Regions from separate parts of the Homo sapiens genome. Here all the other regions are reported to be linked to region 1. Evidence: microRNA targets listed by miRTarBase, many of them from high-throughput screens and not tested one by one. Region 1 holds a microRNA gene; each other region holds the end of a gene's coding sequence.
The links. The annotated mature microRNA hsa-miR-6859-5p reads GAGAGGAACAUGGGCUCAGGACA and lies in region 1 at 1,451-1,473, opposite strand. An mRNA with a match to its seed (bases 2 to 7 or 8) in the 3' UTR can be bound and repressed. Matches are read on the target gene's strand: a 7mer-m8 pairs with bases 2 to 8, a 7mer-A1 pairs with bases 2 to 7 and ends in A, and an 8mer does both.

Region 2: miRTarBase lists NHLRC3 as a target of hsa-miR-6859-5p. Seed matches in the 3' UTR shown: 7mer-m8 at 1,307-1,313.
Region 3: the mRNA of PLEKHM2 is a reported target of hsa-miR-6859-5p. Seed matches in the 3' UTR shown: 7mer-m8 at 2,481-2,487.
Region 4: the mRNA of DUSP7 is a reported target of hsa-miR-6859-5p. Seed matches in the 3' UTR shown: 7mer-m8 at 1,763-1,769 and 7mer-m8 at 1,686-1,692.
Region 5: the mRNA of USB1 is a reported target of hsa-miR-6859-5p. Seed matches in the 3' UTR shown: 7mer-m8 at 749-755, 7mer-m8 at 797-803, 7mer-m8 at 810-816, 7mer-m8 at 825-831, 7mer-m8 at 842-848, 7mer-m8 at 887-893 and 8 more.
Region 6: the mRNA of SRSF4 is a reported target of hsa-miR-6859-5p. Seed matches in the 3' UTR shown: 7mer-m8 at 358-364.
Region 7: the mRNA of FERRY3 is a reported target of hsa-miR-6859-5p. Seed matches in the 3' UTR shown: 8mer at 1,991-1,998.

What each region holds. Positions count from the first base shown.
Region 1 is chr15:101,971,923-101,975,001 of GRCh38, reverse strand. MIR6859-3 (microRNA 6859-3) reads right to left here and starts at 1,478; the gene lies at 1,411-1,478. It also overlaps the pseudogene WASH3P. RefSeq lists an enhancer at 1-397.
Region 2 is chr13:39,047,447-39,050,525 of GRCh38, reverse strand. NHLRC3 (NHL repeat containing 3) reads right to left here. Exons shown (of 7, transcript NM_001012754.4): 7 at 417-2,852. The coding sequence ends at 2,600. Among named protein-coding and RNA genes, the nearest start is that of NHLRC3, 11 kb to the right of the region's middle.
Region 3 is chr1:15,733,720-15,736,798 of GRCh38, reverse strand. It overlaps PLEKHM2 (pleckstrin homology and RUN domain containing M2), which reads right to left. Exons shown (of 20, transcript NM_015164.4): 20 at 2,030-3,002. The coding sequence ends at 2,865. SLC25A34 (solute carrier family 25 member 34) reads right to left here and starts at 541. Exons shown (of 5, transcript NM_207348.3): 1 at 1-541. The coding sequence starts at 313. RefSeq lists enhancers at 675-1,441, 1,442-2,207.
Region 4 is chr3:52,048,015-52,051,093 of GRCh38, forward strand. It overlaps DUSP7 (dual specificity phosphatase 7), which reads right to left. Exons shown (of 3, transcript NM_001947.4): 3 at 905-3,079. The coding sequence ends at 2,801. It overlaps LOC124906238 (a long non-coding RNA gene), which reads left to right. Exons shown (of 2, transcript XR_007095908.1): 2 at 1-944. Among named protein-coding and RNA genes, the nearest start is that of DUSP7, 7.0 kb to the right of the region's middle.
Region 5 is chr16:58,019,681-58,022,759 of GRCh38, forward strand. It overlaps USB1 (U6 snRNA biogenesis phosphodiesterase 1), which reads left to right. Exons shown (of 7, transcript NM_024598.4): 7 at 461-1,938. The coding sequence ends at 565. Among named protein-coding and RNA genes, the nearest start is that of MMP15, 4.5 kb to the right of the region's middle.
Region 6 is chr1:29,145,543-29,148,621 of GRCh38, reverse strand. It overlaps SRSF4 (serine and arginine rich splicing factor 4), which reads left to right. Exons shown (of 6, transcript NM_005626.5): 6 at 1-879. The coding sequence ends at 212. Among named protein-coding and RNA genes, the nearest start is that of TMEM200B, 23 kb to the right of the region's middle.
Region 7 is chr12:4,486,997-4,490,075 of GRCh38, forward strand. It overlaps FERRY3 (FERRY endosomal RAB5 effector complex subunit 3), which reads right to left. Exons shown (of 14, transcript NM_020374.4): 14 at 739-2,903. The coding sequence ends at 2,811. Among named protein-coding and RNA genes, the nearest start is that of FGF6, 43 kb to the left of the region's middle.

The DNA.
Region 1 (3,079 bases):
AGGTGGGGAACAGGGCAAGGAGGAAAGGCTGCTCAGGCAGGGCTGGGGAAGCTTACTGTGTCCAAGAGCCTGCTGGGAGGGAAGTCACCTCCCCTCAAACGAGGAGCCCTGCGCTGGGGAGGCCGGACCTTTGGAGACGGTGTGTGGGGGCCTGGGCACTGACTTCTGCAACCACCTGAGCGCGGGCATCCTGTGTGCAGATACTCCCTGCTTCCTCTCTAGCCCCCACCCTGCAGAGCTGGACCCCTGAGCTAGCCATGCTCTGACAGTCTCAGTTGCACACATGAGCCAGCAGAGGGGTTTTGTGCCACTTCTGGATGCTAGGGTTACACTGGGAGATACAGCAGTGAAGCTGAAATGAAAAATGTGTTGCTGTAGTTTGTTATTAGACCCCTTCTTTCCATTGGTTTAATTAGGAATGGGGAACCCAGAGCCTCACTTGTTCAGGCTCCCTCTGCCCTAGAAGTGAGAAGTCCAGAGCTCTACAGTTTGAAAGCCACTATTTTATGAACCAAGTAGAACAAGATATTTGAAATGGAAACTATTCAAAAAATTGAGAATTTCTGACCACTTAACAAACCCACAGAAAATCCACCCGAGTGCACTGAGCACGCCAGAAATCAGGTGGCCTCAAAGAGCTGCTCCCACCTGAAGGAGACGCGCTGCTGCTGCTGTCGTCCTGCCTGGCGCCTTGGCCTACAGGGGCCGCGGTTGAGGGTGGGAGTGGGGGTGCACTGGCCAGCACCTCAGGAGCTGGGGGTGGTGGTGGGGGCGGTGGGGGTGGTGTTAGTACCCCATCTTGTAGGTCTGAAACACAAAGTGTGGGGTGTCTAGGAAAGAAGGTGTGTGACCAGGGAGGTCCCCGGCCCAGCTCCCATCCCAGAACCCAGCTCACCTACCTTGAGAGGCTCGGCTACCTCAGTGTGGAAGGTGGGCAGTTCTGGAATGGTGCCAGGGGCAGAGGGGGCAATGCCGGGGCCCAGGTCAGCAATGTACATGAGGTCGTTGGTAATGCCGGGCAGGTCAGGCAGGTAGGATGGAACATCAATCTCAGGCACCTGGCCCAGGTCTGGCACATAGAAGTAGTTCTCTGGGACCTGCAAGATTAGGCAGGGACATGTGAGAGGTGACAGGGACCTGCAGGGGCAGCCAACAAGACCTTGTGTGCACCTCCCATGGGTGGAATAAGGGGCCCAACAGCCTTGACTGGAGAGGAGCTCTGGCAAGGCCCTGGGTCACTGCACCTGTCTCCACCTCTGTCCCACCCCTCCCACCTGCTGTTCCAGCTGCTCTCTCTTGCTGATGGACAAGGGGGCATCAAACAGCTTCTCCTCTGTCTCTGCCCCCAGCATCACATGGGTCTTTGTTACAGCACCAGCCAGGGGGTCCAGGAAGACATACTTCTTCTACCTACAGAGGCGACATGGGGGTCAGGCAAGCTGACACCCGCTGTCCTGAGCCCATGTTCCTCTCCCACATCATCAGGGGCACAGCGTGCACTGTGGGGTCCCAGGCCTCCCGAGCCGAGCCACCCCAGTCACCCCCTGGCTCCTGGCCTATGTGCTGTACCTGTGTCTGATGCCCTGGGTCCCCACTAAGCCAGGCCGGGCCTCCCGCCCACACCCCTCGGCCCTGCCCTCTGGCCATACAGGTTCTCGGTGGTGTTGAAGAGCAGCAAGGAGCTGACAGAGCTGATGTTGCTGGGAAGACCCCCAAGTCCCTCTTCTGCATCGTCCTCGGGCTCCGGCTTGGTGCTCACGCACACAGGAAAGTCAGCTTCTCCTGGGAGGGCCAGGATGGCCAACGGATGGTGAATATTTGGTGCTGGGCCTAATCAGCTGCCATCCCATCCCAGTCAGCCTCCTCTGGGGGACAGAACCCTATGGTGGCCCCGGCTCCTCCCCAGTATCCAGTCCTCCTGGTGTGTGACAGGCTATATGCGCGGCCAGCAGACCTGCAGGGCCCGCTCGTCCAGGGGGCGGTGCTTGCTCTGGATCCTGTGGCGGGGGCGTCTCTGCAGGCCAGGGTCCTGGGCGCCCGTGAAGATGGAGCCATATTCCTGCAGGCGCTCTGGAGCAGGGTACTTGGCACTGGAGAACACCTGTGGACACAGGGACAAGTCTGAGGGGGCCCCAAGAGGCTCAGAGGGCTAGGATTGCTTGGCAGGAGAGGGTGGAGTTGGAAGCCTGGGCGAGAAGAAAGCTCAAGGTACAGGTGGGCAGCAGGGCAGAGACTGGGCAGCCTCAGAGGCACGGGGAAATGGAGGGACTGCCCAGTAGCCTCAGGACACAGGGGTATGGGGACTACCTTGATGGCCTTCTTGCTGCCCTTGATCTTCTCAATCTTGGCCTGGGCCAAGGAGACCTTCTCTCCAATGGCCTGCACCTGGCTCCGGCTCTGCTCTACCTGCTGGGAGATCCTGCCATGGAGAAGATCACAGAGGCTGGGCTGCTCCCCACCCCCTGCACACCTCCTGCTTCTAACAGCAGAGCTGCCAGGCCAGGCCCTCAGGCAAGGGCTCTGAAGTCAGGGTCACCTACTTGCCAGGGCCGATCTTGGTGCCATCCAGGGGGCCTCTACAAGGATAATCTGACCTGCAGGGTCGAGGAGTTGACGGTGCTGAGTTCCCTGCACTCTCAGTAGGGACAGGCCCTATGCTGCCACCTGTACATGCTATCTGAAGGACAGCCTCCAGGGCACACAGAGGATGGTATTTACACATGCACACATGGCTACTGATGGGGCAAGCACTTCACAACCCCTCATGATCACGTGCAGCAGACAATGTGGCCTCTGCAGAGGGGGAACGGAGACCGGAGGCTGAGACTGGCAAGGCTGGACCTGAGTGTCGTCACCTAAATTCAGACGGGGAACTGCCCCTGCACATAGTGAACGGCTCACTGAGCAAACCCCGAGTCCCGACCACCGCCTCAGTGTGGTCTAGCTCCTCACCTGCTTCCATCCTCCCTGGTGCGGGGTGGGCCCAGTGATATCAGCTGCCTGCTGTTCCCCAGATGTGCCAAGTGCATTCTTGTGTGCTTGCATCTCATGGAACGCCATTTCCCCAGACATCCCTGTG
Region 2 (3,079 bases), not on the chromosome of region 1:
TCTGTTCACCATCAGATTTCATCCAAGTTTTCTCTGATCGATAAATATTCCACTTGAAAGACCCAATCTGATGGTACAGGTAGGGAAAGATAGAGCTAAATCTATAGCCTTTGGTTTTCTAATTTAGAACACTTTCTCCCCTCCCCACTCCAAGAATAGACCTAAAAAGTAGAAGTATAAAGATGTTCCACTTTTAATGCAGAAATGTAGACAATTAGCTAGTTATTACTGTCAGTTGTACCCTCCCACCACCTCAAAACAAGCTACATTCTTTAAATGTTCTAAGCAACTTCTAGTCATATTTATGCACATCAGCTTACACGCTATATGTGTGAAAAGTGGGATATTCTTTCAGCATCAACTTGTGATTTCATAATTGCTGAAATTCTTTAAAGGAATAAAAAGTTATAGACTGCTTTTGTGACAATAAAATCAAACTTTAATTGGGGAGCCAGATAATATTGCCTTTTCTTTCCAAAATTTTAATTTATACTTTTTAGTAAAAAACATAACACATTTCTCATTCATTTAACCAATTAATCCAAAGGAAAAAAGTGAAGTACTATAATCACAGGTACACTAACAAACACTTTTACAAAGACATTCAGAAATATTTGCAGCAGGTTTTATAAGACTCTGATATAAAACAAAGTAAAATAAAACGTTTTGAAATGGCAAAATCGGTTTACCTAGCCTGAATTGCTTCAAAGAGGCATTTGCACTTCTTGTCCTGGCTTAATAAAACAAAGTAAAATAAAACATTTTGAAATTTCAAAATCAGTTTAGCCTAAATTGCTTCAAAGAGGCATTTGCACTTCTTGTCCTGGCTTAAAAACAAACCCTGAAATTACTTTCTTTTATCCAAATCAATTGACCATATTAATCTGCATAAAGTCTATGAGGATACGTTTTGATAAATGCTATAAACACAAAATTAAGGCAAATCTGATAGTTATTGTCAAATAAATAGCACATTTAGAAGGGCCTTTGTTAATAAAATGCCTCTAATGTATCCAGAGGTATAGATTTCAAAGGGCAAGTCTGTACCTGTTGCACATCTGATTCTCACAGCATTCATGAAAGAGGAGACAATGATATTCCCATTTCACTGAAAACTAAGGTGACTTGTTTAAGGTCATACAGTCCGATCAGTGGCACCAACACATTTACCAATGGCCTTGGAATACAGAGTACAGGGCTTCCTGTTGGTAGATTTACCTTCCTAACCTCACGGAGATGTGATCCAAGTATCAAAACAAGTGTGAGTCCCTTCAGGTCTGGAAAATACTCCAGCCATAACAGGTGAAGAGGAAAGTCAGCTCAAGATTTGTCATATGCTACACAATTTACAGTAAAACACTGGGAAAAGCAGGAAGCTGATGTGAGGAAGGGTGAAGAATGATTTGAAAGATTACAAAATGGCAAAGTTCCTCCAAAACCTATAATAAGCTAAAACAAACTGGAAAAAAAAAAAAAAAGGTCTTAATTGGGAAGCCAATATTCACACCAAAGGAGGGAGTGGGAGGAGAAGATGTAGGAGGAAAGCAGGAAATTATCATCTTAACAGCTCAAAGGATTTGGCACATATCCATGTTATCTAAATAATCTTGAAATTTCTTTGAGGTAGACAAATGTTAGGAATAAGTTGAGTTCATGTAAAACAAAAGAAAGAAAAAGAAAAAAAAAGAGAAGGAAGCTCTACAATCCTTAGTTATTTGTAAAAACCTCTTTTACTAAAGTGCTTAGATGCCAGCCATTTTATTCCTACATTTAAAGGCTGACTGACATTAAATATCTTATAGGTAATGGACAGAAGCCAAGTTGGGCTTTAAAAAAGGCCTAAAAGCCTATCAAAGTTTACAGTACACTTCTAACTTTTTATACCTTCTTTACTTGGAAATTATTGTTTTCTCCTCCTTGTCCCTTGGTAAGCTCCTCCTCAGTTTTCAAGTCTGAGCTCAAATTCACTTCTCCTGCGAAGTATCCATGATTCCCTCAGTCAAATGCAGCACTCCTACTCCAAAAGTCCCACTATGCTCCAAGGTCGCTTTTGCTGTGTTGTGACTGTTTGCCTGCTTGTCTCCCCACTAGACTGCAAGCTACTCAAAAGGCAATCCTGCTTTTTCATTTTTAAGTCGTCAAGACACAGCACTCTGTGGGTACTCAAATTAATCAATAGTTCATCTTATTTACAATCTCTCAAGCAGCTCATTTTATGTTAGTTGCACAATCTGGAGGTCTGGAGTTCTTCACATGAAATTTAATAAATTATCATGCAAGCTCATTTTTATTCCCATTTTTTTTACCCAGGGAGAATCAGTCTACCAGGGCAAATAATGAGGTTACCACCTTAGTCCCTCTTCCCAACCCCATTTTTTAGTTACTTTCCTTTCATTAAAATATCCTTATGCACTTACAAATAAAACTAAGTCCCAAGAGGGCAACAAAATATAAGATTCTTAATGATACAAAAACAAATCTTTCTGATACTAGATCTTTTATACTAGAAAAATAAATTCTTGTGCTTGAACATCATTTTTAAGCACTTAGTGAATTGAGAATCTGAACTGCCACTTGAAATATTCCCAGGAAAGAAACATTATGAACCAAATGAAGGAACATAGCTATTCAAAGGGACATATTTTTGTACTTGTTTTGCTCCAATTTCTGCTACATAGACTGCTCCAGTCTTTCTGTCGACTTCTAGGAGATGTGGCAAAACTTGATCTGCTAGTTGGATTGTGCTGATCACAGAACACTCCCCAATGCTTCCCACTGGGGGTGCTGCTACGACTGAGAGCCTGCTAAGATTCAGCTGGGCCACAATCAAGTACTTCCCATCAGGAGTAAACCTAAGGAGAAAGACATTTAACATAATAAATGTCTGTGAAAAAACATAAGGGTATTTTTTTTCAACATTTTAATCCCCTACTGTGCCAAACAACAGTAGGCACCTACTTGCTGAATGATTCTTTTAAGAAGAATTTTAATTTGATCTAATTCTGTTTATGAAGGAATAAGATGTCCATGATGGTAAGCAAAGCCAAAGATTAGCTTAAATTTGTTAAAAGTATCAATA
Region 3 (3,079 bases), not on the chromosome of region 1:
CACCTGGTTGCTGCGTGAGGCCAGCCTGGCACGCCAGGCTGTAGCAGTAGAAACGAACGCCATTCATGAGGCCTTGGTACAGAAGGCCGGCAGCCAGCCCCTTCTGCAGGCCCCACAGCCCGTCTGCTCGGGCCACAGCAGCGACAGAGGCTATGAAGCCATGGTAGGGCCGTGGGTAGGTGCCCCGGGCCTGCAGCTCCCCCTGCAGCTGCAGCCGCGTCTTCACCACCTCCAGGGGGTTGGTGAAGACACAGGCCAGGCAGCAGGCAGAAGCACCCAGCACCAGGTCCACTGCTGGGGGCACCGTCTCCATGGCCTCCGGGCCAGTGGCCTTCTGTGCCCGGGTCAGGGGCACGGCACAGGCCCTGTGGTGGTGGCGTTTAGGCTGTCTGTAACCTCGCAGGGCTACGGGGCTGGGGTTTGCAGGGGACCGAGGCCATGTCTAGAGGGTAAGGGTCCTGGTCTGACAGGCCTGTGGCTGCCTGGTGTCCCTGGTCTATCTCAGCAGTCCACCTGCTCTGCTCAGCTGTTCCAGCGGTCTGCCGGAGCCTGGGACGCGCCTCCGCCAGCTGCGACCAATCCCAGCTGCCTCTGTGCCCACACCTGCCAGCCGAGGGCGGGCCTGGACCCTGGGATCTGGGGGAAAGGTCACTTGGGACTGGAGGGAGAGCGTGGATAGGGAGAAGGTGCCAACCAGCCCAGGCACCTCCTCCTGGCCTCCCTCTGGCCCTGGGCAAAGGGCTGGCACCCCTGCCTTGCCTCTGGCTTAGCCTGTCCAGCTTTGGCAGAGCCCTAGGCAGGGGGCAAGTGACTGGGAGGTCCCTGGCATGGGGTACACGGCCAACTCCGCCCCTGCCCCACCCTGCCCCTGATATGCCCCTGGTGACTGACTTCCCCTTTCCAGGACTCAAGTCTTCAGTCTGGCTCCCACCGTCTATAGGCCCATGCTCAGCAGGGTCAGAAGTAGAGAAGGGCTCTGGAGCCCTGGGGAGCTGATTGGAATCCCAGGTGTGGCTCTCATGTGTGACCCCTGGGCAAGTCACTTCCTCTCAGAGCTTCAGTTTCTCTCATTTGTAAAATGGAGATACTGACATCCACTCCAGAAGGTTCTGTGGAGGACTGGCGATGAGAAGAGTGTGCCTAGGTCAGTGCTGCACCCGATAAAGGCACCCGCATCGCCTGCTCGCCCCCACCCCCACTGCCTCTGGCTCCTATGCCCCCCTCGCTGCTCCCAGGACTTCAGGGCACCTGGGTGAGTAGGACTTGAGGAGTGACCTTGGCTGGTAAGGACTTGCTGCCAGGCCTGCCCTGGGATGCCCTTTGTGCCCGCTGAGAAGAGAACGCCACCTGGGCCAGCTGTCAGGTGTGTCTGCTCAGGCTGGGGCCGGTACCAACATGCCCACCTTGGCCTCTGCCCCCAGACAGCTCTCTCCTGCCAGGCCACCCTCAGTCACCCAAGGCCCAGTCCAAACTAGAGGCAGAACCACCCAAGTTGGAGTCCCACACCCACCTCCCAGGGCCCACCCCTTCCCTCCCAGGCCCTTGAGGCAGCAATGCTGAGTGGCTTGAGGGCCTCAGGCTCCCGGCCTGGCAGGGTTGTCACCCTCTGGCCAGCCCTGGAGGGGACGGCGCAGCAAGAGGCAGCGAGGACAGCTTGGATTCTCCTGGGTTTGGGCACTCACCCCCGGGGCTGTGGAGGCAGGAGCGTCCTGCCCCGGGGTGGGCTGCAGATGGTGGGCGGCGGTGCAGACGTGCCCTGGGGCTTGAGCTGGTGGCTGCTCCTCCCCTGGCTGCTGCAGCAAACAGGAACAGGACGGAGGGCAAAGGTCGGGCCGAGAAACTCCCAGGGCCTGAGGGTCTGCAGACGGTGAGTCCGCCCGGCAGCGGTGGCTGATCTGGTTCTGCATGTCCCGTGTGTCCCTTGTGTCAGGCACAGGGCAGATGATGGAGGAAGGTTTGCAGAAAAGGGCCCAAGGGATTTGGAGAGCTCCCTTCCCCTACCCTGCTCAAAAAGGGCCAGTGACAAGCCTTGGCAATATAACATGTCTATTTTATTTTAAAAAACAAAACCCAAACCACCTGACCCCTTCCCCAGGAGGCTCTTGACGAAACTCTAGGGAAGGGCCTGGCTCCAGCCAAGCAGGGGACAGTCAGAAGATGTCAACATGGATGCCAGGCTGGTGGGCTCCGCCCTTCTCCAAGCCCCCCATCCACCCCCTTTGCTCCTCGGTGCTACAGGCACTGCCGGGTTGAGGGGACAGGCAGGGCAGGACTGTGGGCATGCAGAGCCTCCTGGCAGCCAGGGAGGGCTGCCCGCCCCCCTGCATCTGGCGAGGCAGGCAGCTGTGTGCGCAGTGATGGAGCTAGGAGGAGGAAACATGCGCAGACACCCCGTGTTCCCGCTTCCCCACGTGGCCAGGAGAGTGTTCAAACACGAACAAGGATGGCTGGGCACTCAGGGCCCCAGCCCCCAACCCAGGAGAGGAAGAGGGGGGTCCCGCCCTCCTGGTTCTTTTGTTCGTCCTTAGATGGATGGTGTTCTCGGTGCCACTCGGCAGAAATTCTGCAGACTGAGGCGGAGGCCCGGGAGGAGGGCGTGCATCCGCAGAGCCCACAGGGCTCGGACCCTCTGCCCCCAGCGACCTCCATTCGCTACCTGTCGGGCAGGATGCCCAGGGGTGCCGGGCACCTGATCTGGATCCCTGGAGTGGAGGGACCCTGTCTTAAGCCACACTCGGTGGTTCTGCCGCCCAGGGCAGGGGTGGACTGTAGGCTCCCGACAGCATGACAACAGCCGTGACAGTGTGCCTGCCGGCTGGCGTGCCTTCCTTTCCTGCCCACCAGGGACGCCAACCAGCTCTGCCTCAGCACCAGGGGTCTCGGGAGGCTCGGCCGCGGCAGAGACTGTCGCTCCGCTGCCAGGCGCTGTGGATGAGGCTCAAGGCATCCTCGAATTTCTTCTTGTTGGAGGCTTCCTGGATCGCCGTGTGGGGGAGGTCCACCTGTGTTGGGGCGTGCAGAGAACAGATGAGGGCCACTGAGGGCCACAGGAGTCTTCAGGGCTTGTGGGCACCAGGCC
Region 4 (3,079 bases), not on the chromosome of region 1:
AGAGCTGGGGAATGTCAGAAATGGGGAAACTGAGTCAGCTTCCAGGCCTCTTAAGTCCTTGACTGGGGCTCACCTGATCCAGCCAGAGGCAAGGGAGACCTAAGCCACTCTGGAGCCTCCATTTCCTGATCTGTAACTCGGGGCTTGTTGTCCACTGGGGCCTCACTTCCCCAGACTGTGGCCCCCATCCTTCTCCAGACCTCCTCCCTGCTCTAGCCCAGGGCCTCGCTTAGACCCCCACCCCCAGGGGAGCCTTGACAGAGGCCCATGCCCACCCTTCCTTGTACACGCCTGAGCACGGCTGATTCCTCCCTGTGAGCCCAGGCCAATAATGTGCTCTTCATGCCACAAAGCTGAAAAGCACTCAGGAACCAGGTGCAATCGGCCTAAGGGACCTGTCCAAGGCCACCCAGCCCTTAAGAAGCAAAGAAGGGCTGACCTGTCACTACCCACTGATATCTCAGGACCTGCAGGGGCAGGGTTAAATGCACATTCCCCTCTCACCCACACGGCAGCAAGAGAAAGAGTTAGGGTCCTGGGGGCTGCAATCTGGGCAATGCCTAAGCAGACAGCCTCAGACAATGAAGGGCGAGTCAGGACTCAGTTGTGTCAACTTGGTATATACAACCTCTCCAAGCCTTGATTTCAGCAGAAGCCCACAGAGAAAGCCCTGATGCCTCTGCCTGCCAGTGCCTAAGGGCTGGGGAAATGCCACCTGCCCCAGCTTCATCCAGAAACTGTGGCTGCTCCCTCCCATCTGCGGGGCACCTTGATTAGTCTAAGTGGCCAGCAGACCCCAAGCAGAACCAGGCCAGTGCCTCACACAGAGCAGGCACTAGGATGCCTGTCGACAGCACTCCTTCCCCTCCTTCCCAGGCCCCAAGCCCTTATCGGACACGACTCATTTTAAAGAAAAAATAATATTTATTTGCAATATAAACAAAGTCCCGTTGTTGGTTCGGGATATATATATATATGTATGTGTGTGTATATATATACGTAGGGTCACAAATCTTCCTTCATAAGATCATAAAGCAAAACTGGCCACCTTCTGGCATACCCTCATTTACACAAATCTGGTACATCTTTCTGGGTTTTCTTTTTAAAAATAAAAGAGAGAAAAAGAGAACCATGTACAGCATGGAAGCTTGTTGTCAATTTCTCGACTGTGGCAAGATTTTAATCTGCTGCGCTAAAGAATCCCTGAAAGCCACCCCCGTGAGGTAAGAAGCAGTGGGGCAGAGTTTTTCTGTGGCCTCACTCACATGCTGAGTGCTGCTCCGTCAGGGACCCTGGCCTGACTCCTCTGCCTGCCCCAGGCCCCCATGCAGTCCTGACACCTGGTGGAACTGAGGCTGGAGAAGGAACAAAACTGGAGGAAGATAACGGAATCCGTGGCTTCGTTCTGTGGAGGCAGGGGGAAGTGAACAGAGCCTTACCCCCCTTCTGCTGGTCCATCCTTGCCCCACTTGCCCCCGCCCTAGGGTTGAAATGGGTGCAAGTCTCCTGGCAGTAGAAGGCATGGGCAAGATGAGGGCAGGGCAAGCTTCCAAGGGGACAAGGGGGCTGGGAGTGGCCAGACCAAAGCAACAGCTAGGGAGAAGGAAGAACCTGGAGGTCGGGCTGGGCCCCACCACCTAATGTCTCCCCAGCCACTGGGCCTCCACTCCCAGTTACAACAAGAGAGAGGAAAGGAAGAGAGAGGGAGGGGGGGAGAGAGAAAGAAAGAGAGAGAGAGGGAGAGAGAGAAAGAGAGAGAGGGAGAGGAAGAGAGAGAGACAGACAGACAGACAGAAGTAGTGGCTAAGTATATAAAAGGGCTCAGAGCCCAGGCCTTCTTAGGGGCTGACCCCAGAGGGCTAATGCTACTGCCTGGCAGCCCCCTGCGGCCCACCTCCTGGGGGACAGCGGCAGGGCCCCAGGGTCCCCACCTTCTGCCTCAGGGAGGTCTGCAGGGACCACCAGAGGGATGGATGAGACGGCAGAAAATGCAAAGACCACCATCCAGCCCACCAATCACAACTTGCAGCAGTCATCACAGGCGAATGCAGAGCTAAGTCAGACTGGGCCAAGGGTGGGAGGCGGCACGACTGGGGGTCCCAATACCTGAAGAGCAGTAAGCCACCCCTTCAAGAAGGGCCCGCTGAGGAAACAGAGGCTTCACACATGTGCAAAACGCATTTGGTCAAGGTCAACATGGCGTCTGTCTTTTCCATTAAAAAACAAAAACAAAAACAAACACGATACTTGCTTTTTGAAATTGAACGAAAAACAAAACTGAACATTTCTCTCTCTTGCAGGATCAGGAAAGGGATGAAATACTGGGTTATACAATCCACTGTTGCATGTAGCCTGAAAATAACACTTTTTGTTAAAAAAAAAAAAAAAAAAGAAAAATCAAGAAGAGCTCAAACACTCTTTGTGCTCCAGGGAGCTTGGATTTACCTGCCAAAAGTAAAAAGTAAACTCAGGTCCGTGGATGTGTCTTTAAAAAACAGCCAAACTGGCTGGGCTGTCAGCAGAAAGGAGCGTCCTGGACAGGATGAGGCCCTGGTGGACGCCCAAAGCCACGTGTCCAAGAGCCGAGGCCTCTCCAGCAAGCCCTGCAGTGGGAGACCTTGCCTGCGGGCCCTGCCCCCAAGGATGGTGAGGGGCGCTCCGACACCGATCAGCCTGGGCCTCTGGGCACAGGTGACATCTGGGGGTTCCTCAGGCCAGAGGTGGCGGGCTTGGGCTCTCCCACCTAGCCCTGTGGAGAGCCGAGCAGGGGCCTGGTGCCATGCCCCCCGTGCACCAGGCCTCACGTGGACTCCAGCGTATTGAGTGGGAACAGGTTGTGGTTGGTGGGCGTGGAAAAGTAGAGCTGCTCACTCGACGCGTGGTTGTCGCACGGGCTGCTTAGCCCCAGCGTCCGCTCAAAGTCCAGCAGCTGCCCCATGAAGTTGAAGTTGGGCGAGATGTTGGACTTTTTCCTCTTGACAAAGTCGTAGGCGTCGTTGAGTGACAGGTTCATCTTCTGCATCAGATAGGCCACAGTGACCGTCACTGAGCGGCTGATGCCTGCCAGGCAGTGCACCAG
Region 5 (3,079 bases), not on the chromosome of region 1:
AGAAGCCAGAAACCTAGATTTTTACATGTAATCTGTCAGTTTTCAAATGTCAGCAACTAATTTGGATGTTTAAAAAACATTTTGCAACCAAACCAAACGTGCAGGCTGGATGCAGCTGTGGTCCCTCGTTAAGGAGCCACCTTGCGCTTGGCCTGATGTTGCTGGAGGTGGCAAAGAGCTCTAGTTTGGGCTCCGGCAGACCTGGGTCCCAGGCCTGGTTTTATTGGTTTCTGTGATCCAGGGCTCTGAGCATCTGTGTCCTCATCTGTAAAGTTGAGATGATAGGACCAACCTCAGAGATTACAGAAGTGATCAGACAAGATCACCAATGCAGAGCCTGGAGCCTGCAGCCTCAGCCTCGCCCAGCCTCTGAAGTTGGGTGAGCTGGTTTTGTTTGCAGTGCCCTGTGGGTCCCAGATGCCCCTTAATGTGACTGTCCTCCCCTGGCTGCTGTTTTAAGGCAATCGTGGATGGGTTTGAAGATGCTGAGGTGCTGCTGCGCGTGCACACTGAGCAAGTCCGCTGCAAGTCTGGGAACAAGTTCTTCTCGATGCCTTTGAAGTGAGCACCAGAGGCCTTCCTCCTCCAGGGCCCTCTGCAGACCAGGCTGAGATGGAGGAACCTGCTAAAATCGATGGAGATGCTTCTAGCCTCCCAGTAGGAGGCCCCAGCCATGCCTTCAACCTGGCAGGAGGTGTAGCCACTCCTCATCCTCCCTGAGTGCTGATATTCTCTCTCTCTCTTTCTCTTCCTCTTCTTTCTCTCTCTTCTCCTCTCTTTCTCTCCTCTGTCTCTCTTCCTCTCCTCTCTTCCTCTCTTCTCTCTTCCTCTCCTCTCTCTCTTCCTCTTCTCTCTCTTCCCCTCCTGTCTCTCCTCCCCTCCTCTCTTCCTCTCCTCTCTCTTCCTCTCCTCTCTCTACCCCTCCTGTCTCTCCTCCCCTCCTCTCTCTTCCTCTCCTCTCTCTCTTCCTCTCCTCTCTCTTCCCTTCCTGTCTCTCTTCCCCTCCTCTCTCTCTTCCTGTCCTCTATCTCTTCCCCTCCTCTATCTCTTCCTCTCCTCTCTCTCTTCCTCTCCTCTCTCTCTCTTGCTTTCTTCTCTCTCTCCTGTCTCGGCTGTTGTGGGTTGCAGGTTGGGTGCTGCTGTTGTGGTCCTTCCCAGAAACTGCCAGTAGAGGGCAGCCTGGGCATCCTAATGCTTACTCTGGTTGTTACACAAAGAAAATATTGGGGTCACTGGCGAGCCCACCCACACTCACCAGAATCTCCACTGTAGTCCCCCTAACAAACAGCCCTTCACTTCCTCTCCCACTTCAGCAATTTGTATTTTGATGCCATTGGCCTCAGATCAGAGTGTTTTAAATCATCACGCCCTGGCTTATCCCTGGTCGAGCCAGGACACGGGGTGCTTCAGTGGGTCTGTCACCCTCTCTCCTTGAAGCATGTTGCTTTTATTTATTTACTTTTACTCTCACCCTGCTCCTGTACCAGCAGGGGCCACTTCAAAGCCAAGGTACAGGGTGATAACTTGTGGTCCAGCATCAGTTTTCTCCACTTCTTTCTCCCACTCACCCCCAGCAAGGTGCCTGGGGAGACTTGAGCAGATGTTTCATTTTGGCCTGGCCAGTGGCTGAAAGCCAGGCCTCCAATGCACTGTGACCTCTGGCTTCCCCAGCAGCTTTCCCAGAGAGGCAGAGGGGCCTTCCACAGCCCGGGTTCTCCTGCTGCCTCCTGCCTGCTGCAGCTGCAGGCATTCTGAGGGGCAACGTGGAGGAAGGGCCAGGGATGCATGGGATTTTAATTGTTTCATCACACCTTCCCCGTGGCAAAGAAACAGTCAGTCCTCTTCAGGTGTCTTCTGGATTTCTGGTGATGGACAGAGAAATCTTTTTACAGTTTCAAATTATGTTCAACAAATAAAAATTGCATTTTTTATTTTGGATCTTTTTTGGACTACTTGTATTTAACCCAGTGAAAAGATGACTGTCACCTTCCCCTACCCTGTCCAGCTGTGTCTCACAGTTTGGGAGGATTCTTGGAAGTCTCTGCTGTGACTTCCAAGATGGCCTCGAGAGGCATTAATGATGCTTCAGTAAAATAAGGGTAGGGAGGGGTCACCCAGCCTGCCAGGTGTACACACAGAGTTCTCACATAGGACATCTAGCCTGGAGCTAGGTGGCAGGGGTCACCACCCTCATCCCTCACCCACATAGGCAGACATTGAAGCCTTATACTGCTGTGACACTGAGCACTTCCCAGAACCTTCTCGTGTCTTCCTCCCAGTATCCCCTGAAAGGTAAACAGGGTGGGAATGTCTAGTCCTCTGTTACAAGAACAGGTTAAGTGACTTGCTTGCATGAGAAATAGGGCCGTACTCAGCCCTAACCTCAGGTCCTGTGCTGGGGTGGCCCTGATCCAGCCCTGCACACCACCTCGTGGTCAGGCCTGGCATCTGGGTGGGGACATAGGGCTTCAGGGAAAGGTGTGGGGAGAGGGGCCTGTTGCCCAGGCTCCCATGGTGGCCCCTGCAACCCCACCTTTCCTGAAAGGGGCAGCCTCCCAGCCACTGCACTGAAAGACACAGGCACATTCTGTGCCTTGTTCCTGCTCCCCACCGCATTGATCTGCTGACTCCGACTCATCATTAGTCTGGTTCTTCTGGAGAGGAGGAGGATGCCGGGCATACTTTCTGGCTTGCAAGCAACATGGCAACTCCGGCTGTGCAGCCTGCACTTAACTGACACCTGCCCTGTGCCAGGCCCTGAACTGGGCACTTGGTGAACCAGACTAGGTCTACCCTCTGGGTGCTCACAGCAGGGCTGAGCAGGCAGGGAGCACAGAGAAGAATCCCCATCCTCAACATGGTACTTCCCCAGACTTGGGTACTGGCTCCTATTGGGAGGGGGGCAGGTGTGAGGTAGGGCCTCCATCAACAAGCCCAGGAAGAGGGACTGGGCCATTCCCCTGGGGGAGGATGTGGCTGGGGAGTCTGTCTGTGCTGAGGATGGAATTTGAGTGCAGCAACTTTGAGAAATGGGCCAAGATCAATAACTGGCTCCTCAATGGAGAATGGAAGGTGGCAA
Region 6 (3,079 bases), not on the chromosome of region 1:
GGGAAGGTCGAGGAGAGAGTGAGAATGCTGGCACCAATCAGGAGACCCGGTCCAGGTCGAGATCCAATTCCAAATCGAAACCAAACCTTCCATCAGAATCACGCTCCAGATCAAAGTCAGCTTCAAAAACCCGATCTCGGTCCAAGTCTAGATCCAGGTCTGCTTCCAGATCGCCCTCCCGATCTAGATCTAGGTCCCACTCAAGGTCCTAACTGGCTATGGCCACAGCTGGAACTACCCGAGAAGTCTTTTGTACATGTTTGGTAGCCGTAGCACAAGTGATTGGAGTAGAACATGTCACTGCTGTACATTTTTAACTCCCCTAATGGTGTGTCTATAATTGTTAAATCTAAGTGCTTCCTCTCAGTAAAGCCTCCTGGCACCAGGCCTTCCTGCTCGACTGAAAAAAATTTTCTCTTTGAAAATCCCCTTTTACTCATGGCCCACAGTAGAATATCCAAAACGCCTTGGCTTTCAGGCCTGGCCTTTCCTACAGGGAGCTCAGTAACCTGGACGGCTCTAAGGCTGGAATGACCACATAGGTAGGTATGGTGAGTTCAACCATTTTTGCTCTTGAATTGATGCCCTTCGATGTATGCCATTTAGTGAAAGTGCTAAGTCTTAAGTTTCCTACCACTTTGGTTTCATATTTTTGGACTTAACAAAGTTGTGAATAGCACAGTCGAGGAAAATTGATACCTGCAGTAACCCATAGGAAATAAACTGTAGAGTTCCATATTCTGGTATTGTGATTATATTGTTTTATATTAAAAAAGAAAAGAAAAGAATTTTTTTTAATTTTATTTTTCCCCGTCTTGCAAAGTATAGTGACCCCTGTTTCCATTAAATTTGAATAAAGACTATTTTTGCTTGACAAAATTTCATGGTGTTTGAATTGAAGTTGTACTTTCTGATATATCTTGATATGTCTTTTCTTAGCATAAAAAGTTCATGTGTAGGCCGGGCACGGTGGCTCACGCCCGTAATCCCAACAGTTTGTGAGGCTTAGGCAGACGGATCACAATGTCAGGAGTTCGAGACCAGCCTGACCAACATGGTGAAACCCCGTCTCTACTGAAAATACAAAAATTAGCCAGGCATGGTGGTACACGCCAGTAATCCCAGCTACTCAGGAGAATGAGGCAGGAGAATCGCTTGAACCCCGAGGGGTGGAGGTTACAGTGAGCTGAGATCACGCCACTGTACTCCAGCCTGGGCGACAGAGCGAGACTCCGTCTCAAAAAAAAAAAAAAAAAAAGTTCATGTGTAATGACTGTTTTGTTCCTTGGGATCACCCATCTTAGGGAACCAACACGTTCCTAAAGGATTTTTCTCACCAACAGAATAAAGGCAGGTTTCCGAGGAATTTATCATCCTTTCTCTTAAGAAACGTATGGCCAGGCTGATGAAGAATGAATCAGTTTGGAAACTTGGAGCATTACCAGATGAGTTGTTCATGAATATAGAGTTCTGTGCTGTTTGTCGAAATTGCCATGAATCTGCGGTATCATGATCTCATCACATTAAGATCTGAACTAATCAAAAACCAGGGGGAAAAAACTATACTGGACTTTTTTTTTTTTTTTTTTCCTGAGACAGTTTTGCTCTTGTTGCCCAGGCTGGAGTGCAGTGGTGCAGTCTCAGCTCACTACAGTCTCCACCAACCAGGTTCAAGTGATTCTCCTGTCAGCCTCCCAAGTAGTTGGGATCATAGGTACATGCCACCACTTCCGGCTAATTTTTGTATTTTTAGTAGAGACGGGGTTTCATCATATTGGTCAGGCTGGTCTCGAACTCCTGACCTGAGGTGATCTGCCCACCTCAGCCTCCCAAAGTGTTGGGATTACGGACATGAGCCACCGCGCCTGGCCTACTGGATAACTTTTGTCCTAATTATTCTTCCACTGCTTGTTTGGCCTAGCTCTCTAGGAGGTACCAGAAGTACAGTGGTTCCAATCTGGTCTCAGCCCTTGAGGGACTGTTGAGGGGCATCACAGCAGGGAGGATGCTTGAGGGCTTTCATTACATGCTGCAGCAAAATCTTGGGAAAGGAGATTCACTTGACTGCTGCCTGTGAATTTGTTGGGGGCTGTCCCTAGGCTTAAAACAACTGTCCTGTTGCTTCCTATAGACCAAAATCTTCGAATGCATTGGAAATACGAAAGTAGAGTGTCTCTTGCCCTCCTGGAGTTTGTGATCTAGTTGCTAGTGATGAAGGCAAAGTGGATATTCAGAGAACAGAGTCAGAACTTCATCTGGGATCAGAGGTAGCACTTAAGCTGAACCTTTTGGGGATGTAGGGTGGGACGCATTCCTATTGAAAGCCTGTGAGCATGGCTTTCATGGAGTTGGGAAAGCACAGGGTACTGTGCCCAGGAAACGTGGAGTTTGATACTGGAGAGTTAGAGTTTAACAAAATGGATTGTGTCATAGAGGGCCATGGATACCAGGAAGAGGAATTTGACCTTTATCCTGTAAGCACTGGGTAACATTGAAGGTATTTGAATAGGAGGGTGCGGGGAGTAGGGTTATGCTTCTAGACCTGACAGCATTGTGAAGGATTGGATGCAGGGAACCCAATAGTTCAGGGCATGCAACCCCAGATGATACGGGGCCTGCTTGATCAAAGCCATGATAGGAGGGAGCAGAAGAGGCAAGATTAGCAAGACTTGGCAAATGTCCTGGCAAAGGAGCTATCGGAAGCAGTCACAGAATGATGAGGCATCATCTGAGGAATGGGGAAGATGACAGGGGAAATTAGTTGAGTTTTGAAAACGTGTAATTTCAGAAACAGACGAGGCAGCCAAACCAAGGAACCTCACTCAGTTTCTGGAGAGTTTCCCAAACCTTTTTCTGGGCCCATTCTCGTGTCATCATGACAAGGTGATGAACCTAACCAGTAAAATTCCCACTGCCTCAGAGGATCTCATGCTGGTCTCCAGTGATGACGATAATTTATTATTCCGATTTTATCCCTATAAGGATAGGGATGTTTGTTGCGGCATTTTGTTTCTTTCAGGTTTTTTTTGTTTGTTTTGTTTTGAGATGGAGTCTGGCACTGTCACCAGGCTGGAGTGCA
Region 7 (3,079 bases), not on the chromosome of region 1:
TCTAGAAAAGAAATGTTTCTGTGATTTCATCTTTCTTTTGTGAAACATGTTTTCTTCTTGTGAGAATTAGCCAGGATCCAACTGAAGTAACACAAATGATGGTGTGTACTGTGCCAATAAGAGATCTGCCAACTCCCAGGCAAGCTCAGTTTCTTCCCGCTGAAATTCTTTTTCATGCATTTCTTCCATTCTGGTCACACTGTCATGCTGAGAAACAGCTGGTGCCACACTTCTAGATCAATGGCTTTGCTTGTGTGGTGCTTCGAGAGCAGAAATGGGGGAAGGGGGGGAAAGAGCAGCACAGAATGGAGACCTCAGGTTCAGTGCCTCTGCCTGATTTCCAAAGCACACTCTTAAGGCCTTGAGGGCCATTTAGGAATATGTAACTGTTTATACAAATAGAAAACTTCTAACTCACAATCCTCACCAATGTCAATGTTTGTGCTAATCTCCCCATCCTCAAAGACTCTCGTGGTCAGCTCCTCTCAACTTACTGGCCATTTACCACTGCCTCCATTCTGCTTCTGCTCCTATCTGCGCCTTACTCAGTTGTCCCTTGGTATCTGCAGGAGACTGGTTCCAGACCCCCTGCCAATATCAATATCCCTGGATGCTCCAGTCTCATATAAAGTGGTGTAGTAATTGCATACAACCTACACACAGCCTCCCATATACTTAATCCGTCTATACATTACTTATACCAAATACAATGTAAATGCCATGTAAACAGATGTTATATTGTATTTTTAAAATTTTTATTGTATTTTTTTTCAGAATATTTTCCATCCACAGTTGGTTGAACAGAGTGCCATCTGTACCTAGAATGCTGTCTCAGCCCAAGGTACCTTCTTCACATCATTCATGAAGTGCTTTAAACCACTCCCCCTCAAGAAGCCCTTTAGAACACTCAGAAAAAGATCCTCATCTCATAATTCTTGGTCCAAATACAAAACTCCAGACTCCTCAATTACTGCATCACTAAAATTCCCACCATTTCAGTGCATATAATTAGCTTTTTAAGTTATATATTTATTATTAGCTTGGTGTTTGTGTGTTTCCATCAGTGGTAACACCATAAACATGATTCTTCCAATTTTACTACTTCTGTAACACAGTTGCATGTGGAAAACGGACATTCGATAAATTTATCCTGACTTCACATGCCAAATAGTACCTTTACACAGCCCTCAGTTAAAGCCACCAGTTTATAAGTAACTTAGTGGAATAGCCTAGAGGTGACAAAGGAAGAGTTGGGCAGCAGCATTCAACAAACATCCGTGAATGAAACTTTGCTCCTCCATTCCGATATCTGGGCTGCACTGATCTACCACTCTCCTGGTTTCTGCCTCTGTCTTCCCTGCTTTGCATTAGAATCAGTCTCAGTGATTAACAGTGGTGCCTGAAAGACAATTTCTCCAAGAGAACTGTATAGGCTCTAAGGGCAAAACACCTGCCTTCTTGGCAGAATCGCCAGGCTCCCTGACAAATAATTTGGAGAGTTTTAGTGTCTAATGGACATACTGCTGGAGTGGGTGTTCTTAGGGTTGTCTTTAGTGTTGTTACCTGGACAAACCTTTCCCTCGAGTAGAAAATTAAGACACATTCTGTTATAGGAAAGCACTCTGCTTGCCAACAGTTTCTATAATAGTTATTACACTGAGGCATATTAATGAAGGGCGTTTTGTTTCTTGTCATCAAGACATGCCATCTTATGACACCAAATGCCCTCCATTTCATTCTTGTGGCCAGTTACAATATCCACATAACTTGGAATTGATGAAACTATTGCTTTTCTAAACACCTGTGTGCTTTTGTAAATGCCTTTGTTTAATGGAGTTACTACTTATAGCATTTAAATATGTTATAGATGGGACAAATATATGATATGTAGCACCTGAGAAAGTAGTACCATAAGGAAAAACAATGGAAAAGGAGGGGAAACAGAGAAGCAGAAATGGGGATACATTTATCCGCAAAAAAATGCAAGAGGTAGAGGAATGGTTAAGCAAGCTGAGAACGCAGGGAGGACAGAAATGTAGAAATGATCTTCCTTGTGTGATTGTCACAATGTTGATGAGCACTAAAATACTGCCAGGTGCTGGTTTAGACTAACTTGACATCAAGCTTGCAAAAAAGAACACTATTTCCCAGTCCATGAAATGTTATTAATATGCAAGTGCAAGGGCACAGCGGGAGGATGAGAGAGAGGGAAAAAATCCAAAACGTCTTCTGACTCTAACTTGTACATCCTTAGGAGTAGATTAAAAAGAGATTCTGAAACAGGAGAATTTAAAAGAACAAGCACATTTGTCTTATACATTTGTGTTTCTATAAAAAGATTTTCACAGGAAATTTGTACTTGCAATGTATATTTCAGTGCTTTTACATTTTGTTTTGGCAAAGAAAGTAAAAGGAAAATTTTGTTTGTATGTTTAATTAAGGATTGCACCTGAGACGAGTCAAGCCTCTTGAAAAAGTCAAATGCCTCCATGTAAATATAATCAAGTTTCCTTTCCCAAGTGTCCATGTGTGATAAATAAAAAGTTTTAGATTACTAATATTCACAGGTAACACAGAGAAGAAAAAAAGAGAAATTCATAAAGAGACTTTAAGTGTTTAAGTTAGGGGTTGATCACCAGTTTGTGCAGTATATAAATTTTTGGAATGGTTTCACACACATGTATCTTGATTTGTGGATTGAGCTGCAAGTTCTCTTTCTGGGCATCTTTTGCTTGACAGATTCCCAGCATAGCACAAGTTCCTGGAGAGTTTAACAATCATCTTCTGCCAGCATGTCAATCTATAAGGGTTTAGTGCTTGGATGTCAGAGTGAGTGTTGATGATACTCGGAAGATCTGGGGAAGCATGTTACTAAGTTGATAAAACATTTCTTCAGAAATACTCTGTAAGACGAAAAAATAATAATTGCACTTGTTAAATCATCATTGATTTTAAAAATAATTTTAGAAGTATTTTAAAATATGGACCTAGTTCTACTAGGAATATGTGAGTGCAGTAGGTGAAAATTATCTTTCATGGCCGATGTAACTGCATGGCCATGGACAAGGGCTGGTTTTCC